Regions from separate parts of the Homo sapiens genome. Here region 1 is linked to region 2. A link means that fine-mapping ties the variant in region 2 to the expression of a gene that starts in the linked region. Tissue or cell type: monocytes after Pam3CSK4. Region 2 holds a variant in brackets; the other region holds the start of a gene. All regions are shown on one strand. Distances are between the middles of the regions. Region 1 holds the start of PHETA1 (PH domain containing endocytic trafficking adaptor 1). Region 2 overlaps CUX2 (cut like homeobox 2).

What was found.
Region 1: PHETA1 starts here. The variant in region 2 is fine-mapped to the expression of PHETA1 in monocytes after Pam3CSK4 (Quach 2016, PIP 0.95).

Annotation. Positions count from the first base shown.
Region 1 is chr12:111,362,301-111,378,002 of GRCh38, reverse strand. It overlaps PHETA1 (PH domain containing endocytic trafficking adaptor 1), which reads left to right and starts at 8,908. Exons shown (of 3, transcript NM_144671.6): 1 at 8,908-9,091; 2 at 11,746-11,890; 3 at 14,540-15,702. The coding sequence starts at 14,576. The coding sequence ends at 15,325. LINC02356 (long intergenic non-protein coding RNA 2356) reads right to left here and starts at 8,742. Exons shown (of 4, transcript NR_187522.1): 1 at 8,683-8,742; 2 at 5,933-6,034. RefSeq lists a silencer at 8,738-9,317 and an enhancer at 15,591-15,702.
Region 2 is chr12:111,320,829-111,336,530 of GRCh38, reverse strand. It overlaps CUX2 (cut like homeobox 2), which reads right to left. Exons shown (of 22, transcript NM_015267.4): 18 at 13,951-14,110; 19 at 1,821-2,090. Among named protein-coding and RNA genes, the nearest start is that of MIR6760, 25 kb to the right of the region's middle. The variant C/T (reference allele first, on the strand shown) is at 6,444.

The sequences.
Region 1 (15,702 bases), 41 kb before region 2:
CAGGCTGGAGTGCAGTGGTGCGATCTCGGCTCACTGCAACCTCCACCTCCAAGGTTCAAACGATTCTCCTGCCTCAGCCTCCCAAGTAGCTGGGATTACAGGCGCCCACCATCACGCCCAGCAAACTTTTGTATTTTTAGTAGAGATGGGGTTTCACCATGTTGACCACGCTGGTTTCAAACTCCTGACCTCAGGTGAATCCGCCCACCTCAGCCTCCCACAGTGCTGGGATTACAGGCATGAGCCACCTTGCCTGGCAGAGTTTCTGTTCATTTTTACAAGAAATTGCCAATTTGTTTTCCAGAGTGGCTATACCATTCTACCTTCCCATCAGCAGTATGGAAGTTCAGTTGTTCCACATCCTCACCAGCACTTGGTGTTGTCAGTCTTTTTAATTTTGGCCTTTCTAATTGGAACATGGTATTAGCTCATTTGGTTTCAATTTGCATTTCTCTGATGTGTAATGACACTGGGCATCTTTTCATTGCTTATTAGCCAGTATATCATATTATAGCTTTTTTTTTTTTGAGACAGAGTCTCACTCTGTGTCGCCCAGGCTGGAGTGCAGTGGCACAATCTTGGCTCACTGCAAGCTCTGCCTCCTGGGTTCACGCCATTCTCCTGCCTCAGCCTCCCAAGTAGCTGGGACTACAGGCGCACGCCACCATGCCCAGCTAATTTTTTGTATTTTTAGTAGAGACGGGTTTTCACCAGGTTAGCCAGGATATTCTCAATCTCCTGACCTTGTGATCCACCCACGTCGGCCTCCCAAAGTGCTGGGATTACAGGCGTGAGCCACCACACCTGGCCCATATTACAGCTTTTTATAAAATATCTGTTAACATCTTTTGCCTGGGCCAGGCATGGTGGCTCATGCCTGTAATCCCAGCACTTCAGGAGGCCCAGGTGGGAGGATTGCTTGAGTGTAGGAGTTCGAGACCAGCCTGGGCAACATGGTGAAACTCCATCTCTACCAAAAATACAAAAAAAAAAAAAAAAAAAAAAAAATTAGCCAGGCATGGTGGCGCGCGCCTGTAGTCCCAGCTACTTGGGAGGCTGAGATGGGAGGATGGTTTGAGCCTGGGAAGCAGAGGTTGTCGTGAGCGGAGATCATGCCATTGAACTGTAGCCTGGGCAACAGGACCAAACCCTGTCTCAAACACACACACACACACATCTTTTGCCTGTCTTTAGATTGGGTTGCTTATCTTATTATTGGGTTGTAAGACTTCATTATATAGATCTGGCATTCAGATTCTGTCAGATATATATATCAAGAAAATTTTTTTTCTCAGTTAGTTGGTGGCTTATCTTTTTGTTTCTCTGATGGTATCTTTCCTTTCCTTTCCTTTTCCTTTTCCTTTCCCTTTTCCTTCCTCCCTCCGTCCCTCCCTCCCTCCCTCTCTCTCTCTTTTTAAACAGGTTTTAAAAACAACCTTTATCTTTTTTAAAGTCAATATGGGCCGGGTGCAGTGGCTCACACCTATAACCCCAGCACTTTGGGAGGGTGAGGCCGGCAGATCACCTGAGGTCAGGAGTTCGAGACCAGCATGGCCAACATGGCAAAACTCTGTCTCTACTAAAAACACAAAAATTAGCCAGGCATGGTGGCACACACCTGTAGTCCCAGCTACTTGGGAGGCTGAGGCAGAAGAAATGCTTGAACCCAGGAGATGGAGGTTGCAGTGAGCTGAGATTGCACTCCGGCCTGGACAACAGGGCAAAATCCTGTCTCAAAAAAACAAAACAAAAAAAACCCCCCAACCTACTGAAGTCCAATTTTTATTTTTTTCTAGTTTATGCTCTTTGAGTCTTAAGAAATCTTTATCCTAAAGTTGTAAAGATTTTCTATTTTATTATTTTTAGTTCCTTTTTTTTTTTTTTTGAGGTAGAGTCTTGCCCTGTGGCCCAGGCTGGAGTGCAATGGCGCGATCTTGGCTTGGTGCAACCTCCACCTCCCGGGTACAAGTGATTCTCCTGCCTCAGCCTCCCGAGTAGCTGGGATTACAGGCATGTGCCACCATGCCTGGCTAATTTTGTGTATTTTTTTTTTTTTTTTGAGACAGAGTCTCGCTCTGTCGTCCAGGCTGGAGTGCAGTGGTGCAATCTCAGCTACTGCAACCTCCACCTCCAGGGTTCAAGCAATTCTCCTGCCTCAGCCTCCCAAGTAGCTGGGACTACAGGCACACGCCACCACACCCGGCTAATTATTTTTATTTTTAATAGAGCCAGGGTTTCACCATATTGGTAAGGCTGGTCTCGAACTCCTGACCTCAGGTGATCCACCCGCCTCGGCCTCCCAAAGTGCTGGGATTACAGGCATGAGCCACCATGCCCGGCCCAATTTTTTGTATCTTTAGTAGAGATGAGGTTTCACCTTGTTGGCCAGGCTGGTCTCAAACTCCTGACCTCATGATCTGCCCGCCTCGGCCTCCCAAAATGCTGGGATTGCAGGTGTGAGCCATCGTGCCCGACCTTATTTACTTATTTTTTGGAGACAGGGTCTCACTCTGTCGTTCAGGCTGGGGTGCAGTGGCGTGATCCTAGTTCACTGCGGCCTTGACCTCCTGGGCTCAAGCGATCCTCCTGCCTCAGGTTCCTGAGTAGCTGGGACTACAGGCATGCGCCACCACACCCAGCTAATTAAAAAACAATTTTTTAAGAGATGGGTTCTTACTATTTTGCCCAGGCTGGTCACTAACTCAGGCGATCCTCGCACTTTGTTTGGCCTCCCAAAGTGCTGAGATTACAGGCATGAGCCATTGTGCCTGGCAGCCCCTATTTTCTTCTAGAGATTTTAGAGTTTAGCTTTTATGTGCAAGAGTTTGATGTATTTTGAGTTAATTTTTATGTATGGCATGAGGTAAGTATCAAGGCTGTTTTTTTCTATATGAATATCCAGTTATTCCAGCTCAATTTGATGAAAAGACTAATCTGGATTTTTCCCTTCGAATCTCCATTTTTCCCATTACTTAGGTCCAAAAGTTGAGAGTCCTTTTTATTTTTATTTTTTATTTTTTGTAGAGACGAGGTCTCCACCCACCTTGGCCTCCCAAAGTTCTGGGATTGCTGGTGTGAGCCACTGTGTCCAGCCCTGGGTAATATTTTTATCATTTGTAGAGATGGGGTCTCCCTGTGTTGCCCAAGCTGGTCTCAAACTCCCAGGCTCAAGTGATCCTCCTGCCTCGGCTTCCCAAAGTGCGGGGATTACAGATGTAAGCCAGCATACCTGGCCCTGGAGTTCTTTTTCTTCTTTTCTTTTTTTTTGTTTTTTGAGACAGAGTTTTGCTCTGTCGCCCGGGCTGGAGTGCAGTGGGGTGACCTCAGCTCACTGCATCCTCTGCCTCCCGGGTTTAAGCAATTCTCTGCCTCAGTCTCTCGAGTAGCTGGGATTACAGGCACCCACTACCACGCCTGGCTAATTTTTTTTGTATTTTTAGTAGAGACGGGGTTTCACCATCTTGGCCAGGCTGATCTCAAACTCCTGACCTCGTGATCCACCCACCTTGGCCTCCCAAAGTACTGGGATTACAGGCGTGAACCACTGTGCCCGGCCCCTGGAGTTATTCTTAACTCCTTTTCTTCCTTCCTCTCTCTCTGTCTCTCTCTCATTCCCCACATGCAACCTATCATCAAATTTTACATATATCTTAAATATATATTAATGTGGTTTGGCTGTGTCCCCACTGAAATCTCAACTTGAATTGTATCTCCCAGAATTCCCATGTGTTGTGGGAGGGACCCTGGGGGAGGTCATCGAATCATGGGGGCTGGTCTTTCCCGTGTAATTCTCATGAGAGTGAATAAGTTTCATGAGATCTGATGGGTTTATCAGGGGTTTCTGCTTTTGCTTCTTCCTCATTTTCTCCTGCCGCCACCATGTAGGAAGTGCCTTTCACCTCCCGCCATGACTCTGAGGCCTCCGCAGCCACGTGGAACTGTAAATCCAATTAAACCTCTTTTTGGCCGGGCGCAGTGGCTCACGCCTGTAATCCCAGCACTTTGGGAGGCTGAGGAGGGCAGATCAAGAGGTCAGGAGTTCGACACTTGGACACAGGATGGGGAACATCACACACCGGGGCCTGTCGTGGGGTGGGGGGAGGGGGGAGGGATAGCATTAGGAGATGTACCTAATGTAAATGACGAGTTAATGGGTGCAGCACACCAACATGGCACATGTATACATATGTAACGAACCTGCACGTTGTGCACATGTACTGTAGAACTTAAAGTATTTAAAAAAAAAAAGAGGTCAGGAGTTCGAGACCAGCCTGGCCAACATGGTGAAACTCCACCTCTACTAAAAATACAAAAAATTAGCCAGGCGTGGTGGCAGCTGTAATCCCAGCTACTCAGGGGGCTGAGGCAGGAAAATTGCTTGAACCCAGGAGGCGGAGGTTGCAGTGAGCTGAGACTGCACCACTGCACTCCAGCCTGGGTGACAGAGTAAGACTCCATCTCAAACAAAAACAAAAAAACCCAAAAAATCTCTTTTTGTTCCCAGTTTTGGGTATGTCATTGTCAGCAGTGCAAAAATGGATGAATACAGTAAATTGGTACCAGGAGTGGAGTGTTGCTGAAAAGATAGGCAAAAATGTGGAAGTGACTTTGAAACTGTAACAGGCAGAGGTTGGAACAGTTTGGAGGGCTCAGAAGAAGACAGGAAAATGTGGGAATGTTTCAAGCTTCCTAGAGACTTGTTGAATGGCTTTGCCAAAATGCTGATAGTGATATGGACAATAAAATTCAGGCTGAGGTGGTCTCAGATGGAGATGTGGAACTTGTTGGGAACTGGAGCAGAGGTGACTCTTGTTATGTTTTAGCAAAGAGACTGGCGGCATTTTGCCCCTGCCCTAGAGATCTGTGGAACTTTGAACTTGAGAGAGATGATTTAGGGTATCTGGTAGAAGAAATTTCTAAGCAGCAAAGCATTCAAGAGGTAACTTGCAGGCTGGGAGCGGTGGCTCAAGCCTGTAATCTCAGCACTTTGGGAAGCCAAGGTGGGCAGATTACCTGAGGTCAGGAGTTCAAGACCAGCCTGACCAACATGGTGAAACCCTATCTCTACCAAAAATACAAAAAATTAGCCATGTGCAATGGCGTGCACCTGGTGCCAGCTACTCAGGAGGCTGAGACAGAAGAACCGCTTGAACCCAGGAGGCGGAGGTTGCAGTGAGCTGAGATCACACCACTGCACTCCAGCCTGGGCAACAGAGCAAGACTCTGTCTCAAAAAAAAAAAAAAAAAAAAAAAAAGAAAAGAAAAGAAAAAAATAAGAAGTAAATTGTAATAGAAAGAAAAGCCCATTTTCTGGGGAGAAATTCAAGCCGGCTGCAGAAATTTGCATTACGTAGCAAGGAGCCTAATGTTAATCCCCAAGACCATGGAGGAAATGTCTCCAGGCCATGTCAGAGAACTTCCTGGCAGCCCCTTCCATCACAGGTCCAGAGGTCCAGGAGGAAAAAGTGGTTTTGTGGGCCAGGCCCTGGGTTCCTGTGCTGTGTGCATCCTAGGGAGTTGGTGTTCTGTGTCCCAGCTGCTCCAGCCATGGCTGAAAGGCACCAACACAGAGCTCAGGCTGTGGTTTCAGAGGGTGGAAGCCCCAAGCCTTGGCAGCTTCCATGTGGTGTTGAGCCTGTGGGTGCACAGAAGTCAAGAATTCAGGTTTGGGAACCTCTGCCTAGATTTCAGAAGATGTTTGGAAATGCCTGGATGCCCAGGCAAAAGTTTGCTGCAGGGGCAGGGCCCTCATGGAGAACCTCTGCTAGGGTGGTGCAGAAGGGAAATGTGGGGTTCAGAGCCCCCACACAGAGTCCCTACTGGGGTACTGCCTAGTGGAGCTGTGAGAAGAGGGCCACCATCCTCCAGACTCTGAAATGGTAGATCCACTGACAGCTTGCACTGTGTGCCTGGAAAAGCCACAGATACTCACCACCAGCCCGTGAAAGCAGCCAGGAGGAAGCCTGTACCCTGCAAAGCCACAGGAGTGGAGCTGCCCAAGATCATGGGAACCCATCTCTTGCATCAGCGTGACCTGGATGTGAGACCCGGAGTCAAAGGAGATCATTTTGGAGCTTTAAAATTTGACTGCCCCACTGGATTTCAGACTTGCATGGGCCCTGTAACCCCTTTGTTTTGGCCAATTTCCCCCATTTGGAACGGCTGTATTTACCCAATACCTGCATCCCCACTGTATCTAGGAAGTAACTAGCTTGCTTTTGATTTTACAGGCTCATAGGCAGAAGGGACTTGCCTTGTCTCAGACAAGACTTTGGACTGTGGAATTTTGGGTTAATTCTGAAATTAGCTAAGACTTTGGGGGACTGTTGGGAAGGCATGATTGGTTTTGAAATGTGAGGACGTGAGATTTGGAGGGGCCGGGGCAAAATGATATGGTTTGGCTGTGTCCCCACCAAAATCTGAACTTGATTTGTATCTCCCAGAATTCCCACGTGTTGTGAGTGGGACCCAAGAGGAGGTCATTGAGTCATGGGGGCCAGTCTTTCCTACGCTATTCTTATAATAGTGAATAAGTCTCACGAGATCTGAAGGGTTTATCAGGGGTTTCCGCTTTTGTTTCTTCCTCACTTTCTCTTGCCACTGCCATGTAAGAAGTGTCTTTCACCTCCCGCCATGATTCCAAGGCCTCCTCAGCCATGTGGAACTGTAAGTCCAATTAAACCTCTTTTTGTTCTCAGTTTCGGGTATGTCTTTATCAGCAGTGTGAAAACGGACTAATACATATATCCATTAAATATATATCTATACTTAACCACTTCTCTCCACCTCCACTGCTCCACTCTAAGCCACCACCATCACTTGCTTGGACTACTGCAGTAGTGTTCTCCCTGATCGCCTGGCTTCTACTATCATTCCCTGCCCATAGCAGTCAGGGACCATGTTAAATCTAACACAGACCATGTCCCTCCTCTGCTCAAAACCCTCCCATGGCTCCTCATTCTTCTTAGAGTAAAAGCAAAATCTTTCCTCTGGTCCTTAAGCCCCTAGGTCACCTGGCTTTCTGGCTTTGCCAATAATCTCTGATCTATTGTGTTTTTTTTTTTGTTTTTGTTTTTTTTTTGTTTGACAGAGTCTTGCTCTGTCACCCAGGCTGGAGTGCAGTGGTGCAATCTCAGCTCATTGCAACCTCTGCCTCCTGGGTTCAAGTGATTCTCCTGTCTCAGCCTCCCAAGTAACTGGGATTACAGGTGTACACCACCATGCCTGGCTAATTTTTTTTTTTTTTTTTTTTTGTATTTTTAGTAGAGACCGGGTTTCACCATGTTGGCTAGGCTGGTCTCGAACTCCTGACCTCAAGTGATCTACCTGCCTCGGCCTCCCAAAGTGCTGGGATTATAGGCGTGAGCCACTGCGCCCAGCCAGCTGACCTATTTTCCTACTATTCTTCCCATTGCTCACTTGGCTCCACTGGTCTCCTCGTTGTTCTTCAAACATGCCCAGGATGGCCCCATTTCAGGGCTTTTGCACTTGCTGTTCCCTCTGCCTGGGACCTCCTTCTCCCAGATAACCACATGGCTCCCTCCCTCATTCCTCCAGGTCTGTCCTCAGAGAGGCCTTCCCTGACCACCTTGTCTAAAAGCTGCACTTCCAGCTTGGGCAAGATAGCAAGACCCCCCCGATCTCTACAAAAAATTAAAAAAAATTAGCCGGGTGTGGTGGTACACACCTGTAGTCCCAACTACTTGGGAGGCTGAGGTGGGAGGCTCGGTTGAACCCAGGAGTTCAGGTTACAATGAGCTGTGATTGTGCCACTGCACCCCAACCTGGGTGACAAAAAAACACAAAAAACAAAAAACAAAAACAAAAAAACTGCACTCCCAGGCTTTCTGCCCCATTGCCTTAGCGTACAGTCCTAGCATGAATCACTTCCAGAACTCATTTGTGTTGTCTTGATTCCTGGCTGCACCTGCTTACCTGGTTCAGGTACAGTGCCTGGCACACAGTAGGCGCTTAGTGAGAGGCTGTACAATGGAGAGCTGACCCTGGTCTGTCCTGTTCTTCCTGCTTTCAGGCCAGGACTTAATAGTGATTGGGAGGTGGCGGGTGGTGGAGAAGAGGCGGCAGGAACAGGAAGGAAGGGTTCAAGGAGGTGGGCAGGGCAAAAACAACAGCAATTCCTATTTCTTGAGAGCTTTCTGTTGTGCCGTGCACTTTACATATCATGATGGTCTTTATTTTCCGGATGAGGAAACGGAGGCTTAGAGAAGTGAAATGATTTCTCTAAGCTCACACAGTGTTCAGTGGCCTAGTGCGACTCGAACTCAAGTCTGCCTAATTCCAGAACTTCCTCTCTTCACCTGGAGCCAGGGGAAGCTTGCGAGGCGCCCTGTCCGTATGGAACAGTGCTGTACGCAAATGTCCTGGATTCAGCTGTTTTTTCTGCCACTCACACATTTTTCAGGAATTAGAGCTATTTTTCTAATTTAACTGGGCATTAAATTTGCTAAACCTGGCAACCCAGGTTTAGCAAATATTTTTATTATTTGTAGAGATGGTGGTCTCCCTCTGCTGCCCAGGCTGGTCTTGAACTACTAGGCTCAGGCAATCCTCCTGCCTCGTCCTGGGGGGAGTTCGGACTTAAGCCTAGGACTTCAGCGAATGGCCCGCCCAGGACCCCCAAATGCTTTTGCAGGCTAATCCACGACCTGGGCCAGTCCTTACCTTTGGAATCGCAATGAGCTTCCCGGGCTCCAATCCGCTTTTCTGGGCTAGGGAACTGGGGAGTCGCGAGCCAGGAGCGGACCCTTTAAGAGTGATTTCGAGGGCGGGCTCACGGGGGCGTGCCGGTTCGGGGCCTGCCAATCGGGAGGTGGGAAGAACGCGGGGGCGGGCCCGGCGCGAGCAGGCTGGGAAGGGTTAAAGGGGCGCGCCCGTGGGTCGCGGACTGTCCGGTTGCTCCCGCCTCCTTCCGTCGGATCCGCGCTCTCCCGCGGCTGCGCCGGCCCGGCCGCCCAGGAGACAAAGCGCTGCCGCCGCCGTCGCCGCCACCGGGCCAGTCCCGAACCATGGCCGGGCCACCCCGCAACCTCGCGCCTCCCGTCCCGTCGCCGCCCTAGGCCTGCGCTGCGAGGTAAGGCGGGCCTGGCGGGGGGACATGCACGAGGACATGGGACCCGGGTCGGGCCGCCCTGGGCCTCGGGGTCCCCCGGCCACCTGGAGAGCGCGTTGCGGGGATCTTCCCCGCTGGGACTCCGCACCAGTGGTGACTTCTCCAGCTGCCGAGGCGAACTTGGCCAATGACCACCCTCCCCTCTCTCAGCCCATAGGGACGTCTGCCGCTGGTGGGGACTGCGGATAAGCCCCCCATTCTGCCGCTGATCACCCATCTGGGGCTCTGGCTGTCCTTTAAGGAACTTAAGAGAGCTCCCACGCACAACACACAAAGGGACAGAGAGCAGCCGGGAGCAGGGCCACACCTGGAGCAGCAGCCCCTGCCGTGGACAAGGGGGCTGCCTGTGTCTGGACGGCGGTGCTGGCGTGTCTCTGGGGTCCCTGCTGGGGCGGTGACGGCCAGGCTGCTCTTTAGTGTTCTTGGCACACATGTTTTTCAGCCTGTGCCTGCCACACCCTCTTCCCCACGCCCGCTGCTGGGGGACACTGAGGGCAGCTGGATTCAACCCCAGGACCTGCGGTACTGGCTTCTTTTCGTTGATGTGAGTGCCAAAATGCCATGCTTCAGTCTCCCAGGAGACCTGGGTTCCGGGGCCAGCTGTGCCCCTGGAGATCTTGGATGAATTATTTGCCTTTTTGACAGCTCTTTCCCTGAAAGCTCACTACCCACCAAGTATTTTGCAAAATGACTCTTCAGGAGTCAATTCACTCAGCCCTTAGAGGGATGGAAGTTAACGTCACCATTTTGCAGATGAGGCTGAGAAAAAACTCCGACTCACAGCAGCTAATATTTGCAATCCATTTCCCATAGTTTGCCAGTGGGTTTTCCTTCTTTTAGCTCATGAACCCTCGCCACACAGCCCAATTTAACAGATGAGGACACTGAGACTTGGAAAGGTGAAACGACTTGTCCAAGGTCCTCCAGCCTGGACCTGCGGAGGCAGGAACTTTGCCTTGGGAGCAGAGCTGGGCCAGGCTCCCTCCAGCTTCCTGTCTGGCCATGGGCTGTTGAATCAGCAGCAGTGCCCACAGTGGACTCTGAACTTCTTGGAAAACAGTGTGGGGAGATAAGGCAGGGGCCAGGCCTTCGCTCCAGGCAAGGCTGGCGCCTGTGCCCCTGCAGCTTCCTGTCTTCCCAGTTCTGGTGGAGGCAGGGGTCATGGGCAGAGCTGGGTCCTGTGCCTGCTGGTGACCTTGAACCAGTTTGGCCTCTATCTAGGCAGTCGGGGGAGGAGGGTTGCTGAGCAGGAGGGAAGTTGCTATTCCTTTGGCCTTGATGGGGTGGAGAGACCCCAAGATCAGCCCCTTTATTTGGGTGGCTTGCCTGGAGCATGTGATTCTGGGCACAGTTGTATGCCTCTAGCCAACTTATTGAATCTCCCTGTGTCCATTTCCACATCTGTGAATGTGGGGTGAGATCCCTTGTCTTGGGGCTGTTGAAAGGTTTCAGAAGATACTGCAGAATGAATCAAACAGCTGTGTGAGTACCTACTGCATGCCAGGCACTAGAATTCAGACCACAAACGCCCCTGCAGGCAGAAATGACCCAGGTATTAATTTCAGGTGGAGGCACAGGAGAGGGACTGGGGGGCCTCTTGTGCATAGGGTGGCCAGGGACCACCTCTCTGAGGAGGTGACAGCTAGGCTGAGACCAAAGGATGGGGAGCTGGCCTTGTGAAGACCTGCAGGCAGACAGCCGGGACCAAGTCTTGGAGGTGGGGATGTGTCTGGTGTATTTGAGGAACAGAAAGGAGGCCAGGATGGCTGGAGCTGAGTGAACAAGGGGGAAAGAGGTAGGGAAAGGGAACTTGGAAGCCAAGGGAGGCTTGGATTTTTTTTTTTTTTTTTTTGAGACAGAATCTCACTATGTCACCCCCCAAGTTCAAGGGGTCCTTCCATGTTAGCCTCCCAGATAGCTAGGACTAGAGGCTTGTATCACCATGCCCAGCTATTTTTTTTTCTATTTTTTATAGAGATAGGGTCTTGCTATGTTGTCCAGGCTGGTCTCTAACTCAAGCAATCCTACCCCCTCAGCCTCCCAAAGTGCCAGCATTACAGGTGTGAGCCACCGCACCCTGCCTAAGGATTTAATTTTATGCTGAGAGAAGTAGGGAGCCATGGGAGGGTTTAGAGCAGAGGAGGAGTGTGATTGGACTTAATTTTCACAGGATCCATCTGTGGGAAGTGGATTTCAGTGTGGCTCGGAGAAGAGCTTAGGAAGGAGGCTTGGATCTTACCTTGAGGAACATGGACAGGGAGGGGCAAGGAGACTTATGAGGAGGCTACAGCAGCCATCCCAGTGAATGGTGATGGGGCCTAGAATGGGGAGGTGGAGTGGACAGATTAGGCAACTGATTTGGAAGACGCTGGAGAGGGGGATCAACTGGACTTGATGTGCGATCAGATGCGGGGGTGAGAGGGAAACCAAGGGCCATTTGCTGAGATCGGAAGCACAACACAGGGATGTTTGGGGAAAAGCCAAGAAAAATGTGAACTGCAACCGCGCTCAGCAGGCACTGTGTGCCTGGCCCCATGCTCCGCAAAGTCCATATAGTCACTGTATCATTGTCACAACAGCCCTGACTTAGGCACTGTTACGATCCCATTTTACAGATGCAGAAACAGAGGCCCAGAGAGATGAATAGCCTGCCTGGGGTCCCCCAGCCCAGATGCTGCAGAGCTGACATTTGAATCCAGAGAAGAGCGAGCTGAGGCTGGAGCTGAGCAGAGGGCAGGGAGGCAAGTGGTGGCCTGAGAGGTAGGAGCGGAACTGGGCAAGCAGGGCGGGAGGGTCCTGTGAGAACCGGGGCCAGCATCCACATGGGAGTTGATGGGTGGTGGTGTGGGGAATGCGTGAATCCCTGCGGCTTAGAGAGGGACAGCTGTAGCTGAGAGGCAGGGTGGGGATTCAACACCTGGAGACTTTGGGGGCTCTGGCCTTGGCCTCCCACTAGGTCAGGACAAACTGACCTCAGTTTCTTTTTTTATTTTAAGTTCCATGATACATGTGCAGAACATGCAGGCTTGTCACATAGGTATACGTGTGCCATGGTGGCTTGCTGCACCATTGACCCGTTCTCTAAGTTCCCTCCCCTCACCCCCGATCCCCCAACAGGCCCCGATATGTGTTCTGCCCCTCCCTGTGTCCATGTGTCTCATTGTTCAACTCCCACTTATGAGTAAGAACATGCGGTATTTGGTTTTCTGTTCCTGTGTTAGTTTGCTGAGGATGATGGCTTCCAGCTCCATCTATTTCCCCGCAAAGGACATGATCTCATTCCTTTTTATGGCTGGATAGTTTTCCATGGTGTGTATGTACCACATTTCCTTTATTCAGTCTATCATTGATGGGCATTTGGGTTGGTTGATCTCAGTTTCTAAGTCACAACTCATGTTCCGTCTTCTAGGAAGCCTTCCCTGACTGCCTATGTGGCTGACAGGAGGTGGCAAGGACAACCCCCTCCACCCTAGGACAGGTAGTCTGGCAGGGCCTCACTGCGGTCACCTGCTCCCAGGAGAGCCACCACCCTGACCTCATTCCACCAGGCTCTGAGAAAGACACCACCCAGGCAGGGGAATGAACACTGAGTGCCTACTGCGTACCAGGACTTTATATCCTTTGCTTCTTGAAAAATGTAGCTACCATCCTATGCAGGCTGAGGCTCTGCAGTGGGAGATAAGGCAGGCTCTCAAAATGGCCATGGAAAACCCCAAGGGAAGGTGGCCAGGCCAGGGACGCAGATGCCACCTCCCGACAAGTCCTTCCTGGCCAGCGTTGCCCCATCATATACTCCTTGGGGGAAGGTGGATGGGGTCACTGTGGCCGATGGCATGGAGTTAGAGTCCTCTATGCTAAATGGCACGGGTCGACCCCCTGCCCCTCCTTCCTGTAAGTCAGCCTAGCCCTGGGCCTGCATCTTTCCCCAAATTCTTTCTTTTTTTTTGAGACGGAGTCTGGCTCTGTCCCCAGGCTGGAGTGTAGTAGTGCAATCTCGGCTGACTGCAACTTCTGTCTCCTGGGTTCAAGCACTTCTCCTGCCTCAGCCTCCCAAGTACCTGGGATTATAGGCACCCCCCACCATGCCTGGCTATTTTTTTTTTTTTTTTGAGATGGAGTCTTGCTCTGTCGCCCAGGCTGGACTGCAATGGCGCAGTCTTGGCTCACTGCAACCTCCGCCTCTTGGGTTCAAGCGATTCTTCTGCCTCAGTCTCCCAAGTAGCTGGGATTATGGGCGTGCACCACCTCACCTGGCTGTTTTTTAGTAGAGATGGGGTTTTGCCATGTTGGCCAGGCTGGTCTCGAACTCCTGACCTCAGGTGAGAAGGATTGGCCTTGGCCTTCCAAAGTGCTGGGATTACAGGCGTGAGCCACTGTGCCCAGCCCCTGTCTTACTATTTTCCATAGAACATGAGACTACCTGGCAGACGTCTTATCTGTTTGTTAACTGTCTGCTCCCTTTCACTTGCCAGTGGCATTTCAACACCACGAGGGCAGGGACCGTGTCCATCTTTTTTTTTTTTTTTGAGACAGAGTGTCACATTATTGCCCGGGCTGGAGTGCAATGGCATAATCTCGGCTCACTGCAACCTCCGCCTCCTGGGTTTAGGTGATTCTCCTGCCTCAGCCTCCCGAGTAGCTGGGATTACAGGCGCCCGCCACCACGCCTGGCTTATTTTTTGTATTTTTAGTAGAGAAGGGGTTTCACTGTGTTGGCCAGGCTGGACGACCCTGTCCATCTTGTTATTGCTATATCCCTAGGCCTGGAACAATGCCTGGCACCCAGTAGATGCTTAATAAACATTTTATGAATGAAATCAATCTCTACAACTCTCCAAAGTTGGTTCTGCTCATCCATTTCATGGATGAACAAACCAAAGTCGAACCACAAAGTCAGGGCTGGGACCTGGCAGGGACTGCAGAAGGCCAGCTGGTCTTGTTCTTGGGATGATGGAAACAGCAGCGCCTGAAATGAGGCCTGGGTTTGGATTTCAGCCCTGCCCAACCTGCTTTGTGACACCAGGGAAGCAGTTAACCTCTCTGTGCCTCTGTTTCCTCATCTGTTGCACTGGTGCCAGGCCAGTCCCTGTGACCTAAGGTCTATTGTGAGATAAAGTGAGTTCATTCCTCTGAAATGTCTGGCATGCAGCAGGAACTCACAACATTATTTCAGGGATACAGGAGGGTAGGAGGTTATGAGGCTGTCTGGGGAGGCCCGTGAGACCCAGGTTCCAGTCCTGTCTCTGCTTCTTAGGAGTTGTGGGCGCATAGGCCAGCTGCTTCCACCCTATGAGCGTCAGTTTCCTCATCTGTGAAACGGGGATGTAGAGTGGCTGCAAGGTCCCCTTGGGGCACTGGGTGACCTAGCGTCAGTGGCCTTGTGCATAACAGCCCTTCTATGGGGTCCAGGCCCCAGGCTCCCCTCCAGGCCCCGCGATTGCCACCATGAAGCTGAACGAGCGCAGCCTGGCCTTCTACGCCACCTGTGACGCCCCGGTGGACAATGCAGGCTTCCTGTACAAGAAGGGTGGGCGGCACGCGGCCTACCACCGGCGCTGGTTCGTGCTGCGCGGGAACATGCTCTTCTACTTCGAGGACGCTGCCAGCCGTGAGCCCGTGGGCGTCATCATCCTGGAGGGCTGCACTGTGGAGCTGGTGGAGGCCGCCGAGGAGTTCGCCTTCGCTGTGCGCTTTGCGGGGACCCGGGCGCGCACCTACGTGCTGGCCGCTGAGAGTCAGGATGCCATGGAGGGCTGGGTCAAGGCCCTGTCGCGTGCCAGCTTCGACTACCTGCGGCTGGTGGTGCGCGAGCTGGAGCAGCAGCTGGCGGCTGTACGTGGCGGGGGTGGCATGGCCCTGCCCCAGCCCCAGCCCCAGTCCCTGCCCTTGCCCCCGTCCCTGCCCTCTGCCCTGGCCCCAGTCCCATCCCTGCCTTCTGCCCCAGCCCCGGTCCCAGCCCTGCCCCTGCCCCGCCGGCCCAGTGCCCTCCCGCCCAAGGAGAATGGCTGCGCTGTCTGGAGCACTGAGGCCACCTTCAGGCCTGGACCCGAGCCCCCTCCACCACCGCCTCGCCGCCGGGCCTCGGCACCCCACGGGCCCCTGGACATGGCCCCCTTCGCCCGGCTGCACGAGTGCTATGGCCAGGAGATCCGGGCCCTGCGTGGCCAGTGGCTCAGCAGCCGGGTCCAGCCCTGAGGCCACCAGGGCGCCTGTTTTAGGGGGACACAAGCTCTATGCCCTCTGGGACAGGCCGGGTCCTGGAGAGACTGGGGGAGCAGATCCTGAGGGAAATCATGGGCAAGGCTGGCCCCCAGGCCCTGAGTGGCCTGGTTTTGGGGGATGCAGGCTCTGAGAAGGTGCTGGATTCTGAGTGGGCCTTTAGGACCATGTGACCCAGAAGGCCTACCCTTGAGGGGAACGTCACGTGCAACACTAAGGAGAATCCAGGGCCTGAGGGGGAGGTTTCCTGAGAACTCCGGCCCCAGGCTGGCCTGAGCTGCCGGGCAGAGGCCTGTGCTGGCAACAGGCATTGCCGGGCCTGCAGCTCAGAGGGTCACTGGGACTGAGGGCGA
Region 2 (15,702 bases):
GGTTGCAGTGAGCTGAGATCGTACGACTGCACTCCAGCCTGGGGCCTGGGTGACAGGAGACTCCATCTTAAACACACACACACACACACACACACACACACACACAACACTGAAGTGTCTGAGAGGCCAATGGGGAGGGATTTATTTACTTTTTTAGTAACTTTTTTTTTCCTGTACTTTTCGGTATACCTTAAAACAATGAATATGTCTTATTTTTATAACAGGAATTGTAGTGAAAATGTTGGGGTTTGCATACATCCCTCTGGTAGGGGGGCATCACCCGCATTTAAGACTCAGAGGAATTTGTGTCCCAAAAAGGGAAAGAGCCCTAGAAGAGATTTTTCCACTGTGGCCCAAGAGGGCAAAGACTTCAGCACCGGGTGAGGACTGAGCTGGAGTTCCGCAGTGACTGGGGTTCTCCACGTCTTCCTGGAAGGAAGTTTTTAAAGCCGTGGGCTGAGAATTCCAGGTCCTCTCAGACCTGCATTCACTTTGTCCTATCCCAGACCCAGGTCAGAGCCAGATGCCTCACACAGGGTCCTGGATGCCCTGGGGCTGACTCCAGTGCCCTGGGATCTCACCGTGGGCACTTTTGTCTTTTTTTTTTTTTAATTTAACTTTTTTAGAGACAAGGTCTTCCTCTGTCGTCCAGGCTGGAGTGCAATGGCATGATCATAGCTCACTGCAGCCTTGAATTCCTGGGCTCGTGCAGGCCTCCTGCCTCAGCTTCCTGAGGACTATAGGCATTCACCACAATGTGTGAAGTTTGTTTGCATGAAGTTTGCAGCTAATTTTAGGAAGCTTTTTTATTTTTTATTTTTTTGGAGATGGAGTCTCACTGTGTTGCCCAGGCTGGAGTGCAGTGGTACAATCTCGGCTCACTGCAACCTCCACCTCCTGGATTCAAACGATTCTCCTCAGCCTCCTGAGTTGCTGGGATTCCAAGTGCATGCCACCACACCCGGCTACTTTTTGTATTTTTAGTAGAGATGGGGTTTCACCATGTTGGCCAGGCTGATCTGGAACTCCTGACCTGAGGTGATTCGCCTGCCTTGGCCTCCCAAAGTGCTGAGGTTACAGGCGTGAGGCACCGGGCCCAGCTTGTTTTTTATTTTACTGATTGACTGATTTTTTTTTTGAGATGAGGTCTCGCTCTGTCGCCTTGGCTAGAGTGCAGTGGTGTGATCTCGGCTCACTGCAACCTCTGCCTCCCAGGTTCAAGCGATTCTCCTGCCTCAGCCTCCCAAGTAGCTGGGACTACAGGCATGTGCCACCACGCCTGGTTAATTTTTTTGTATTTTTAGTAGAGACGAGGTTTCACCATGTTGGCCAGGCTGGTCTCGAACTGCTGACCTCAGATGATCCACCTGCCTGGGCCTCCCAAAATGCTGGGATTACAGGTGTGAGCCACCATGCACAGCCATTAATTTATTTTATAGACAAGGTCTTGCTCTGTTGCCCAGGCTGGCATGCAGTGGCATGATCATAGCTCACTGCAGCCTTGAACTCCTGGGCTCACGCGATTCTCCTGCCTCAGGCTCCTGAGTTGCTAGGACTACAGGCATGCACCAACACGTGTGAAGTTTGTATGCATGGAGTTTTCAGCTAATTTTAAAAAGCTTTTTTAAGATATGAGATCTTGCTATGCTGCCCAGGTTGGCCTCAAACTCCTGGCCTCAAGCGATCCTCCCTCCCTGGCCTCCCAAAGCACTGGAATTACAGGTATGAGCCACTGGGTCCCAGCTCCAGACACCTTTTCAAGGCAAGTAGGAGCCAACCCAGGTGGGAGGCAGCCTCTCCGATTCCCACCCGCTCCGTACCTAGATTGTTGTCTGTGAGGACCTCCTTCACCCTCTTGGTGATGGAGTACGTGTCCAGCTCGGGGGACATGGCCACGATCTCCTGGATGCCCCCTGGGGCCTGGCTGCCTGAGTACATCTTCCCGCTCAACGAGGAGCTGGAGCGGCCCTCTGGCTGCTGGTTCTCCTTGCTGCTCTCCAGGGACAGGCTCAACGGCTCCTGGGAGCTCTTCTCAGGCTCTGTGGGGCTGGGGGGTGGGGATGGTGAGGACCTTGGTTCTGTGGGACTGGCTGTGGGCCACAGAGAAAGAGAAGGTGGTTACTATAATCTGGCACAGACACATCCACTTTCGGGAGGCTTGCTTCTTACAGCCAAGAGTTGCCAAACACCCATTTTGCAACCACTGTAGTAATAATCGCTCAGGTAGGGACCACCCTGGATGCTAAAACTAGTGGATGAAAGTTTGATGAGGACTGGACTGGGATTTCTACAAAGTCTCCAAGTATCTCCCCACATGATGCTTAGCAATTTTTTTTTTTTTTTTAAGACGGAGTCTCGCTCTGTTGCCTAGGCTGGAGTGCAGTGGTGTGATCTCGGCTCACTGCAACCTCCGCCTCCCGGGTTCAAGCGATTCTCCTGCCTCAGCCTCCCAAGTAGCTGGGACTACAGGCATGCGCCACTACGCCCTGCTAATTTTTTGTATCTTTAGTAGAGACGGGGTTTCACCATGTTAGCCAGGATGGTCTCAATCTCCTGACCTCATGATCCACCCGCCTCAGCCTCCCAAAGTGCTGGGATTACAGACATGAGCCACCACACCTGGCCGATGCTTAGTAATTACAAAGGGAAAAGTAGCCACTTTACAGTACAGAGACCTGGTTGGACTCTCTCTGTCACCCAGGCTGGAGTGCAGTGGTGCGATCTCGGCTCACTGCAACCTCTTTCCCGGGTTCAAGCGATTCTCCTGCGTCAGCCTCCTGACTAGCTGGGATTACAGGCACTGGTGGATACCATCTTAACCAATGATCCAAGTTACTATCACCAATCACAGGGCAAGTCAGCAACATGGGCCTCCTGAGAGGATGGCCTGAGAAGGACATGGCATCACTTCTGTGATATTCCCAGCCCCAAGTACACAGCCCGAATCTGATTTCAAGGGAACATCAGGCAACCAAACTCAGACTGTCCAGGAAATAACAGCCTCTACTCTTCAGAAAGGGCAACACTGGAAAACAAAGAAAGGCAGAACTGTCGAAATCAAAACATGAAAACTAAACACAAGTGATCTTGAATCTCATCCTGCACAGGGAAAAGAAATTTACATATTTTATTTAATTAATTCATTTTGAGACAGGGTCTTGCTGTGTTGCCCAGGATGGAGTGCAGTGGCTTGGTGATAACTCACTGCAACCTCGACCTCCTGGGCTCAAGTGATCCTTCCACCTTAGCCTCCCAAGCAGCTCGGACCACAGGTGTGCATCATCATGCCTGGCTCACTTTTCTTTTTTTGAGACAAGAGTTTCACTCTGTCTCAAAAAACTTCACCCAGGCTGAAGTGCAGTGGCATGATCTTGGCTCACTGCAACCTCCACCTCACGGGTTCAAGAGATTCTTGTGCCTCAGCCTCCTAAGTCACTGGGATTATAGGTGCATGCCACCACACCCGGCTAATTTTTTGTATTCTTAGTAGAGACGGGGTTCCACCATGTTGGCCAGGCTGGTCTCAAACTCCTGACCTCAAGTGATCTACCTGCCTTAGCCTCCCAAAGTGCTGGTATTGCAGGCGTGAGCCACAGCACCTGGCCAAGATTTATATATTGTATCTAAAAATTTATATAGCTCATAAAGGATATTATTGGGACAACTGAAGAAACCTGAATATAGATGGTGGGATACATGCCAGTATTTTACCACTGTAAAATTTCTTGTTTTTGGAAAGCACTTGTTGAAGCATTTAGGGCTAAAGGGACAAGATGTCAATGAATTCCTCAAATGGCAGAGAAAGAGCACGATTATGGCAAAATTAATAACTGTTCAAACTGGGTACAGTGCAGGGAGTTTGCTGTTCTACTGTTTCAATTTTTCTGTAAATTAGAAGTTACCTCAAAACGAAAAGTTAAATAAACGGCAACAACTAAAGAAGTCAGCAATGATCCAGCAATGATCTACAAGTTCAACCACAGGAGATTGGCTGAATAAAATATGGGGGATCCCTGCAGTGGGCTCTTCCGAGGCAATGAAAGAAAATGTAATGAAAAGATGTCCATGGTGCAATGCCACATTAAAAAGCTAGATTGGGGCCGGGTGCAGTGGCTCATGCCCATAATCCCAGCAATTTGGGAGGCCAAGGTGGGAGGATCACCTAAGGTCAGGAGTTGGAGACCAGCCTGGCCAAATGGTGAAACCCCGTCTCTACTAAAAAATACAAAAATTAGCTGGGCATGGTGGCACATGCCTGTAATCCCAGCTACTCGGGAGGCTGAGGCAGCAGAATCGCTTGAACCTGGGAGGCGGAGCTCGCAGAGAGCCGAGATCACACCACTGCACTCCAGCCTGGGCAATAGAGCAAGACTCTGTTTCCAAAAAAAAAAAAAAAAAAAAAGGTAGACAGATTTTTAAACTACATTTTTCATTTTTCTTTTTTTTTGGAGATGGAGTCTCACTCACTCTGTCGCCCAGGCTGGAGTGCAGTGGCATGATCTTGGCGCACTGCAACCTAGCCTCCTGGGTTCAAGTGATTCTCCTGCCTCAGCCTCCCCCATAGCTGGGATTACAAGCGTTTGCCACCACACCCGGCTAACTTTTGTATTGTTAGTAGAGATGGGGTTTCGCCATATTGGCCAGGCTGGTCTTGAATTCCTGACCTCAAGTGATCCACCCTCCTCGGCGCCCCCAAAGTACTGGGATTACAGGCTTGAACTACCATGCCGGGCCCATTTTTCATTTTTCAAAAGACATTTTGTGTGACTATATATTGGAAAAATGATTTGAAAGATATCTGGGGCTTGTGATCTCGGGTGGATGACTTTGCCAAGCCTCCGTCCTTCCATCTGTTAAATGGGGCCATAAGACACGTAGCATTATACATACTACTTGGGGCCATCGAGAGACCTCCATGAGATAACGTGGGGCAAGGGTCCACCTCCACCTCCTCTACCACCTCCACCTCCTGGGGCATTAGAGGCACCCATGGGAGTCCCAGTGTGAGCTGAGCCTCCTGAGAAACCAGGAAAGGTGGGAGCATCCCCAGGGAGGCACCCCTAATGGGTTGGCAAGCATGGTGTGGGGTCTAGGAATCCCAGCACTGGCCACACCTAATCCCAGCACATTAGAAAAAGATGCCTCTTCCTTGAGGCATTCAACTGCCACCTGCTGGAAACTTGTTAAAATAACCATTAAAATGTATGACAGCTGGAAGAAAAGGGAGCAACGGCTTTACTTTCAGAAGAGACATCCTGAGCCCAGGATGGGTTCCTTCCTTCTCTGTCGTGGGTGAGTTGGTCACTCGGATCAGACCACTCCTATGCTCCAGAATCATCAATGGCTCCCCATTGCCCCTTGTGCAAGAAATGTCTATCACCTTGTCTTGGTGATTAAGGCTCTGAACTCCCTTGTCCCTGCCAACTGGAGCTACAGCATTTCCCTCACTCCCCTTCACAAACATCTAGGCTCCTCTCTAAGCCCCTATGTCTTTGCTCAGGCTGGTCTTGCCATCCTGAGGACTTTCCTTCTAATCTTGAACTCCTATGCATTCCTCAAGATCCAGTCCTAAATGTCCCTTCCCTGAGGTCTATTAGACTTTTGGGGTCTAATAGCACCTTGAATATATATTGTCACAGTTTGCTATAATTTCTTGCTTGGGCCAGATCTCTTCCTTACTGATGACAATGATGATGATGTTAATAAATTCCCTTTATTGAGTACTTACTACATGCCCAGTGTAGTATTATGTGCTTTATGCCTATGATCCCTCTCTCTTTATATATATATATATATATATATATATATATATATATATATATATATATATATATATATATATATGTATATGTATTTTTAAATAGAGATAGGGTTTCACTATGTGGCCCAGGCTGGTATCAAACTCCTGGGCTCAAGTCATCCTCCTGCCTCGGCCTCCCAAAGTGTTGGGATTACAGGCATGGGTCACTGTGGCTGGCCAATGCTCATGATCTCAAGTGACCCTCATGACACCTCTAAGAGGTAAGTGCTATGTCATCCCATTTTATGGGTGAGGAAACCGAGGTTCAGAGAGGTTAGACAACGTGTCCAAGATCACACAGCAATAAATGGCAAAGTCAGGACTTGAGCTGGGGTTGGGTTATGCCCAACACTGTCCTCTCATCTACCAACTGTGAGCCCCTTGAAGGCAAGGACTACAAGTTAGTCACAGGTGAGTCCCCAGAGCCTGGGGGTGGGGCAGGGGCTCTGGGCAGATGCCTATGGAGTAATTTCAGCCAGGATCCCTGAGTACTCCTGAAGAGGGCAAGGTGAAGCCCCCGAGTTCGAAGTAGCAGCATCATGGCCCTTTGTGACCGTGAGGTCTCAAGAAGTCTACTGTGCCCCCAGCCCCAAGTGAGCTGATCCTGGCCATTCAGGTAGCATCCATGTGATGCCAAGGCTGA[C/T]GTGGGCATGTTCCAGGCTCACTGTTACCAACACTGATGCCATGTTGGTGTGGGAGGGCCAGTCTGGGAAAGTGAGAGTCTGTCCTAGGTGTCTGCCCACTGTCGGCAGCAGGAGAGGGGCTGGGGCCAGCTGGAAAACTGACGGTCTTTGGGCCGGGCATGGTGGCTCACGCCTGTAATCCCTGCACTTTGGAAGGCCAACGCGGGTGGATCACCTGAGGTCAGGGGTTCGAGACCAGCCTGGCCAACATGGTGAAACCCCATCTCTACTAAAAATACAAAAAATTAGCCAGGTGTGTTTGCACACACCTGTAGCCCCAGCTACTCTGGAGGCTGAGGCAGGAGAATTGGTTGAACCTGGGAGGCAGAGGTCGCAGTGAGCCGGGATTGCGCCACTGCACTCCAGCCTAGGTGAAAGAACAAGACTCCACCTCGAAAACAAACAAACAAACAAAAAACACAAAAAACTGAGGGTCTTTGAAGGCATCTCCCTCTTGGAAAACTATCTGCACCCATGTCCCAACCTAGAGGGCCAAGAAGCGAAGCGAACAGGATGACATGGAGATGATTGGCAGGAAAGAACACAGCCACCCCCCAATCCCACTCCCCCAGGGAGAACCCCGCCTTTCTGACTCCTCTGACTGAGAATCGCTTCTGACGAAGTGATGGAAAGATTCAGAAATTATCTCTATCAGGAAGACTGTGCTAATTACAGGGCTGGGGGAGTCACATGTGAACAACTGGGTTATTTGGAGAGGGAGGCGACGACAGGGAGAGGCAGGGTCTTCTTGCCTTGCTGGGCTTGTGGGTGGGGTGCCAGACAGGGCTGTGGGCAGCTGGGGACAGGAGAGAGAGCAGAGTGACCAACCCATCCCAGTCTGCCCGCGACTTTCCTTATTTTACTACAGAAAGTTCCAGATCCTGGGAAATCTCTCTCTCCTGGAGAGATAAGGATGGTGCAAGAGAGATGAAAAGAGAGCACTGGAGGGACAGGGAGGGTCAGGGAGGAAGAGACAGAGCAAACAGAGGGGGAGAGAGATGGTGAGAGAGGCAGGGGGAGAGAGAGAGTGGGGTGGGGGGAGGAGAGGGAGAGGGAGAGAGGGAGAGAGGGGGAGAGAGAGAGAGAGAGAGAGAGAGAGAGAGAGATAGGTGAATCAAAAAAATGCAGAGTGAGAAAAACAGAAAGAAGACAATGGAGGTGACTGGGTGCAGTAGCTCATGCCTGTAATCCCAGCACTTTGGGAGGCCAAGGTGGGTGGATCACCTGAGGTCAGGAGTTCAAGACCAGCCTGGCCAACATGGCAAAACCTGTCTCTTCTAAAAATACAAAAAATTAGTTGGGTGCCTGTAATCCCAGCTACTTCGGAGACTGAGGCAGGAGAATTGCTTGAACCCAGGAGCCGGAGGTTACAGTGAGCCGAGATCACACCATTGCACTCCAGCCTGGGCGACAGAGTGAGACTCTGTCACACACACACACACACACACACACACACACACACACACAAAAGAAATTGGAGGAGAGAGACAGAGATCAGGAGAGAGACAGAGGGAAGACAGGGACTGTGTATGGGGACAGGACAGGGCTTCCTTGACTGCTTGAGAATTCTGAGAAACCTCGGATGGAAGGGTCTGGAATACTGATGCTGCCACGGTAGGTAGCGCCGATTATACCCGGGGCTGCGCCTGGCAGTGGACGTGGGGATAAGGGCGTGCTTTATAACCCTCCCGTGGCATCTGGCTCAACTTCAGTAACAGGTATGGTCAGGGTTCCAGTGCCGGTCCCTGCCCGCCCCAGTGGCCAGGGCATACACAAGCGGGGCTTGGACAGGTCCTGACACCCAGCCCCACAGCCAGACTCTGTGGGACTTTGTGGGCAATGGATACACCCTTTTGCTTCCAGGCCCAGTGGGTTATGAACAAGCAGAGGCTGTGAGGGTGGCTCTGCCATCACCACTCTCTCCCTAGGGCCAGCAGCTACAGTAGCCACCTCCAGGCCTGATTCCCTCATCATTATTATTATTGTTTTTGAGACAGGGTCTCGCTCTATTGTCCAGACTGGAAGGCACTCACTCCAGTTCACTGCAGCCTTGACCTCCTAGGCTCAAGCATCCTCATACCTCAGCCTCCTGAGTAGCTGGGACTACAGGCACCTGCCACCATGCCCAGCTGATTTTTGTATTTTTGTAATTTTGTACAGAAGGGGTTTTGCCATGTTGGTCAGGCTGGTCTCAAACTCCTGACCTCAAGTGATCCGCCTGCTTTAGCCTCCCAAAGTCCTGGGACTACAGGTGTGACGCACTGTGCCTAGCCTTGGCTTCCTATTCTGGGAGAGCAGGGGACCCCGCCACCTCTACTCACATCCCTTCCCAGGCCGTGCATGGTCCCACCTCCTAGCCGCTGCCTGTGCCATTCCTTCCACAAGGAGCACCATTCTCCATCTTCTCTGCTTACCTCTATCCTACCTGTGGTCAAATCCTTCCATGACAATAAAATCTACAACCAAAACAATCAGACATTGGGGAAATGCAAATAAAAACTACAGTGAAATACCACTTACACACCCACCAGGATGGCTAGCGTCAACAAATGGGAGATAACCCATGTTGGTAAGGACCTGGAGAAACAGAAACCCTTTGAACTTCCTCAGTAAGTTAAACACAAGAGTTACCATATGATCTAGCCAACTGTACTCCTAGATATATGTTCGAAGAACTGAAAATGGGGGTTCAAACACAAATATGTACACAAATTTTCATAGGCGCATTATTCAAAATAGTCAAAATGGGGTCTATCCATACAATGGAATATCATTTAGCCATAAAAAAGGAAGGAAATTCTGATGCATACTACAGCCTGTATGAGCCTTGAAAACACGTTAACTGAAAGAAGCCAGCCACAGAAGGCCAAGTAGTACAGGATTCCATCTATATGAAACATTCAGAAGAGGCAAATCCAGACAGAAAGAAAGCGGAATTCCAGGAGCTGGGGGGAAGGAGGATGGGCAATGACTGCTGGATGGGTATGGGGTTCCTTTTTGGGGCGGTGGGAATATTCTGGAATTAGACAGAGGTGATGGTCACACGCATTGTGCATGTATTAGATCCACTGAATTGTATACTTCAAAAATGGTTTAAAAGGTACATTTTACGTTATGTGATTTTTGTTTGTTTGTTTCTTTGTTTGAGACAGAGTCTCACTCTGTCACCCAGGCTGCAGTGCAGTGGTGCCATCCGGCTCACTGCAACCTCTGCTTCCTGGGTTCAAGCGATCCTCTCGCCTTAGCCTCCCGAGTAGCTGGGATTACAGATGCGTGCTACCACACCCGGCTAATTTTTGTACTTTTAGGAGAGACGGGATTTCTCCATGTTGGCCAGGCTGGTCTCAAATTCCTGGGCTCAAGTGATCGGCCCGCCTCGGCCTCCCAAAGTGCTGGGATTACAGGTGTGAGCCACGGTGCCCAGCTGTTATGTGAATTTTACTACAGTAAAAAAGTTAGTTAAAACCTAACACCACAGACCAGGCGCAGTGGCTCACCACTCCAGCCTGGGTGACAGAGTGAGACTATGTCTCAAAAAACCAAAAACCAACCCCCTCCATCACCACAACACTATAAAACAAAACCAACCCCTACCCCACCACAAGACTATAAACAAAACCCACCCCTCCCCCAACACAACACTATAAACAAAACCCACCCCTCCCCCACAACACTATAAACAAAACCCACCCCTCCCCCACCACAACACTATAAACAAAACCCACCCCTCCCCCACCACAACACTATAAACAAAACCAACCCCTCCCCCAACACAACACTATAAACAAAACCCACCCCTCCCCCACCACAACACTATAAACAAAACCCACCCCTCCCCCACCACAACACTATAAACAAACCCACCCCTCCCCCACCACAACACTATAAACAAAACCAACCCCTCCCCATCACAACACTATAAACAAACCCACCCCTCCCCCACCCCAACACTATAAACAAAACCCACCCCTCCCCCACCCCAACACTATAAACAAAACCCACCCCTCCCCCACCACAACACTATAAACAAAACCCACCCCTCCCCCACCCCAACACTATAAACAAAACCCACCCCTCCCCCACCACAACACTATAAACAAAACCCACCCCTCCCCCAACACACTATAAACAAAACCCACCCCTCCCCCAACACACTATAAACAAAACCCACCCCTCCCCCAACACAACACTATAAACAAAACCCACCCCTCCCCCAACACAACACTATAAACAAAACCCACCCCTCCCCCACCACACTATAAACAAAACCCACCCCTCCCCCACCACAACACTATAAACAAAACCCACCCCTCCCCCAACACAACACTATAAACAAACCCACCCCTCCCCCACCACAACACTATAAACAAAACCCACCCCTCCCCCACCACAACACTATAAACAAAACCCACCCCTCCCCACCACAACACTATAAACAAAAAAGGATGGAAGTCTTTTCCCAGGTAGGCTCTGGGGTAGACACATTTCGGGACCCTAGGGGGCAGGAAGCCTGATGGCCCACAGCCCAGGGTGCTCATCCTAGGTCTGCCACTCACTGGATGATGGCCTTGGGCAAGTCACTGCACTACCATGCCCCTGGATTTCCTCATCTGTGAAATGGAAATGATAAACAGTCCCTTTGGTGGAGACTGACATGAAGATTACAGGACAAAGCACTTTGACCACTTGGTGCTATGTGTGGTAAGTGGCAGCGGTCATTAGCATTAGCATGGCTGCTTTTTTTTTTTTCTTTTGAGACGGAGTCTCGCTCTGTCGCCCAGGCTGGAGTGCAGTGACAGGATCTCGGCTCATTGCAAGCTCCGCCTCCCGGATTCACACCATTCTCCTGCCTCAGCCTCCTGAGTAGCTGGGACTACAGGCGCCTGCCACCACGCCCGGATAATTTTTTTTTTTTTTTTGTAATTTTAGTAGAGACGGGTTTCACCGAGTTAGCCAGGATGGTCTCAATCTCCTGACCTTGTGATCCGCCTGCCTCAGCCTCCCAAAGTGCTGGGATTACAGGCATGAGGCACCCCACCCGGCCAGCATGGCTGCTTTTAATCCTCGTTACAGCCTTATGGAGAGGAGTTTTTAAATCATTGTATTTATAAACTATTAAAAACATATAGAAATATACAGACAACAATATGTAAGTCCTCCCCTCCCTTCCACCCATCACCGTAATCGATGCTGACACTTCACCCCCGTCACTTCCAATCTTCCTTCTTGTTTTAAAGAAACAGGAAAGGGCCAGGTGCTGTGGCTCACGCCTGTAATCCCAGCACCTTGGGAGGCCAAGGTGGGTGGATCACCTGAGGTCAGGAGTTCAAGACCAGCCTGACCAACATGGAGAAACCCCGTCTCTACTAACAATACAAAATTAGCTGGGCATGGTGGCGCACGCCTGTAACCCCAGCTACTCGGGAGGCTGAGGCAGGAGAATCGCTTGAACCCGGGAGGCAGAGGTTGCAGTGAGCCGAGATCATGCCATTGCACTCCAGCCTGGGCAACAGAGCAAGACTCTGTCTCAAAACAAAAACAAAAACAAAACAAAACAAAAAAAAGAATAGGAAAGGAGCAGAGCAAAGTCACCACGCCCTGCCTCTTCCTGGCCCCCTCCCTGCCCAGTGCAACCTCCCTCCCCAGCTGGGGGGCTGCCTCCTTATGCATTTCTTTCTTTCTTTTTTTTTTTTTTTTGAGACAGAGTCTCACACTGTTGCCCAGGCTGGAGCGCAATGGTGAGGATCTCAGTTCAACTGCAACCTCTGCCTCCCAGGTCATGTGATTCTCCCGCTTCAGTCTCCTAAGCAGCTAAGATTACATGTGCACGCCACCATTTCCAGCTAATTTTTTGTATTTTTAGTAGAGACGGGGTTTCACCATGTTGGCCAGACTGGTCTCGAACTCCTGACTTTGTGATCCGCCCGCCTTGGCCTCCCAAAGTGCTGGGATTACAGGTGTGAGCCATCACACCCGGCCTATACATTTCATTTTATTAATTCTTTTAGAGATGGTCTCACTTGCCCAGTGCAGTGTGAGATGCACTGCAGTGGCATGATCATAGCTCACTGCAGCCTCGAACTTCTGGGCTTAAGCGATCCTCCTGCCTCACCCTTACAGGCACATGCTACCATACCCGGCTAATTTTTTATTTGTAGAGATGAGGTTTCGCCATGTTGCCAAGGCTGATTTCAAACTCCAGGCTTCAAGAGATCCTCCTGCCTTCACCTCCCAAAGTATTGGGATTACAGGCGTGAGCCACTGTGCTCGGCCTCCTTTTTTCTGAGACAAGGTCTTACTCTGTCACCCAAGCCGGAGTGCAGTGGGATGATCACAGCTCAAGTGATCCTCCTGCCTCAGCCTCCCGAGTAGCTGGGACCACAGGTACGTACCATTCCAACTGATTATTTTTATATTTTGTAGAGACACGGTCTCCCTCTATTGCCCAGGCTGATCTTGAACTCCTGGCTTCAAGAGATCCTCCAGCCTCAGCCTCCCAAAGTGCTGGGATTACAGGCGTGAGCCCCCATGCCTGTCCTCAGCCTCTTTTTAAATATTAATGCATAAGTCTGCAGCCATACAGCTACACCAGTGTGCAGTCTCATCCTGTAGGTGTTAGCTTCTATAGTAAGCACTGTCACTGGGATGGAGGCTTTTGTCACTTGACATTATGTTTCCAGTCCATATTCCTGTTGATATGGGCCTGCTGACCTGGCTCGTTTCTGTGAACCTGAGATATGGTTTTGTCCTATTGACAAGACTGAGCTCAGATCCTTGGACTCAGGGTCTGGCCTCCCCTGGTCTCTGCCCTTCTCAGTGGGCAGGTCTGATGTCCTCTCCTTGCAGTCACGTGCCCTCATTCCAGTGCAGGGCCCGGGTAGGTGCCTCACCAGGGCCCTGGCAGACTTATCCGCTGGTCCCCACAGTGGCAGGGAGCTGGGGCTCCCCCTAGCACTTCCGGACTCTGGGACTTTGGGCATCCCTCTGAGCCTCCGTTTCCTCACCCGGGCAAAGCTGACACTCCAGCCTGCTCGTGCTATCATGGGCAGCTGGGTGGCACTGCCCAAGGCCCTGTGCTAAGAAGGAGTCTGAGGCTGCACGCTAGGTCTTCAGGAAACAGAGCTGAGATCGATGAGCAATTCCAGATGTGGGACTCCACATGCAAAACACATTCTCCACCTGCTCTGAGCACCATGGAGCCACTTGGAGGCTTAAAGCCAGGACCCAGTGCATCAGGCGTGCAGCTTCTAGAAGCCTCCCTCTGGTTGGAGGAAGGAAGAAAGGGGAGCAGAGAAACCCCAGGACCCCCCGCCATGTTCCAGTGCAGCCATGACAGTGACTGGGATGAAAGCCAGGGCAGCAGGGAGGGAGAGATAGGTAGACTCGGGCAGTAAAGCCAGGCGGACATGCCACTGCGCAGGTGGGAAGTTTGCCAGCACCCCCTGAGATGCTCCTGCCCGCACTCACCCTGGGAGGCACCAGGCTGCTGGCCCACTGCCTGGCCGAGCTGGTCAGAGAGCCACAGCTGCATGCGGATGAAGGGCTCCCGCCCCTTCTGCGTCAGCTTGCTCCATGGCTTCGGCCGGGACAGCATGTCGCTCACGCTGCCCTGTGACAGGCCCAGCACCTGCGAGGGGCGGGCCAGGGGGGTAGGTCAGCAGGCCCCTGGGACATGGGCCTGGCCCTCACTCTCCTCCCCAACCTTTTTTTTTTTTTTTTTTTTTTTGAGGCAGAGTCTCGCTTTGTCTGTCGCCCAGGATGGAGTGCAGTGGCACCATCTCAGCTCACTGCAAACTCCGCCTCCCAGGTTCAAATGATTCTCCTGCCTCAGCCTCCTTAGTAGTTGGGACTTGTACCAGGCTGGTGCACGTCTGGCTAATTTTTGTATTTTTAGTAGAGATGGGGTTTTGCCACATTGGCCAGGCTGGTTTCGAACTCCTGACCTCAAGTGATCCACCCAACTCAGCCTCCCACAGTGTTGGGATTATAGGTGTGAGCCACCATGCCCAGCCTCCCATCCCCTCCCCTCCCCTCTGTTGGAGTCCAGGCGGCCTTCATTTGTTCCTCATAGGTGCCTGCCATGTGCTGTTGCTGTGCCCTTCCCCTCCAGTACCCTCCCTAATGTCCCTACATGTAAAAATCCTTCAGTGCCCCCCTCCTCCAGGAAGCCTTCCCTGACCTCCCACTTAAGTCATTTCTCCCTCCTCCGAGCTTGCCTGGCCCTTTGCCTATTCCCTTGCTAAAGGTAGAGGTGACACTTAAAACTGGCATTGCAGGGGCACCAACCAATCAGGAAACACTGAGGTCCCCTGGCTAGGGTGAGCTTTATTTAACCCTTTCTTTTTAAATTTTTATTTATTTTTGGGGGGATGAGGTCTTGCTCTGTTGCCCAGGCTGGAGTGCACTGGTGTGATCATGGCTCACTGTAGCCTCGACCACCTGGGTTCAAGCAATTCTCCCACCTCAGCCTCCTGAGTAGCTGTGCACCACCACACTTGGCTAATTTTTTTTATTTTGTAGAGATGGGGGTCTTGCTACATTGCCCAGGCTGATCCCAAACACTTTTTTTTTTTTCTTTTGAGATGGAGTATCGTTCTGTCACCCAGGCTGGAGCACAGTAGCGAGATCTTGGCTCGCTGCAACCCCTGCCTCCCAGGTTCAAGTGATGCTCCTGCCTCAGTCTCCTAAGTAGCCATGACTATACCGGCACAGGACACCAAGCCCAGCTAATTTTTATATTTTTAGTAGAGATGGGGTTTCACCATGTTGGCCAGGATGGTCTTGATCTCTTGATCTCATGATCTGCCCGCCTCAGCCTCCCAAAGTGCTGGGATTACAGGTGTGAGCCACCGTGCCCAGCTTAATTTTTGTATTTTTTAGTAGAGACGGGGTTTCACCACGTTGGCCAGGCTGGTCTCAAACTTCTGGGCTCAAGAGATCTTCCCACCTCCGTCTCCCAAAGTGCTGGGATTACAGGCGTGAGCCACCAAGTCCTGCCACTTAACCCTTTAGTGGCTGGACCTCAGGCGATCTGGAGGGGCCTGGAGGAGGGGAGTTAAGTGGCTGTTTGCTGGCCAGGATGGAAGCATTTCCTGGTTTTAACAACCACGGAGCAGAACAGTGGCCCTCCTTCCTGCGGGACCCAGGGACAGCAGGACTCAGGAATGAAGGGCCTGGGCCCCTGGGGTCCCGCCAGCCTGCTTGGGTGGGCATCCTACT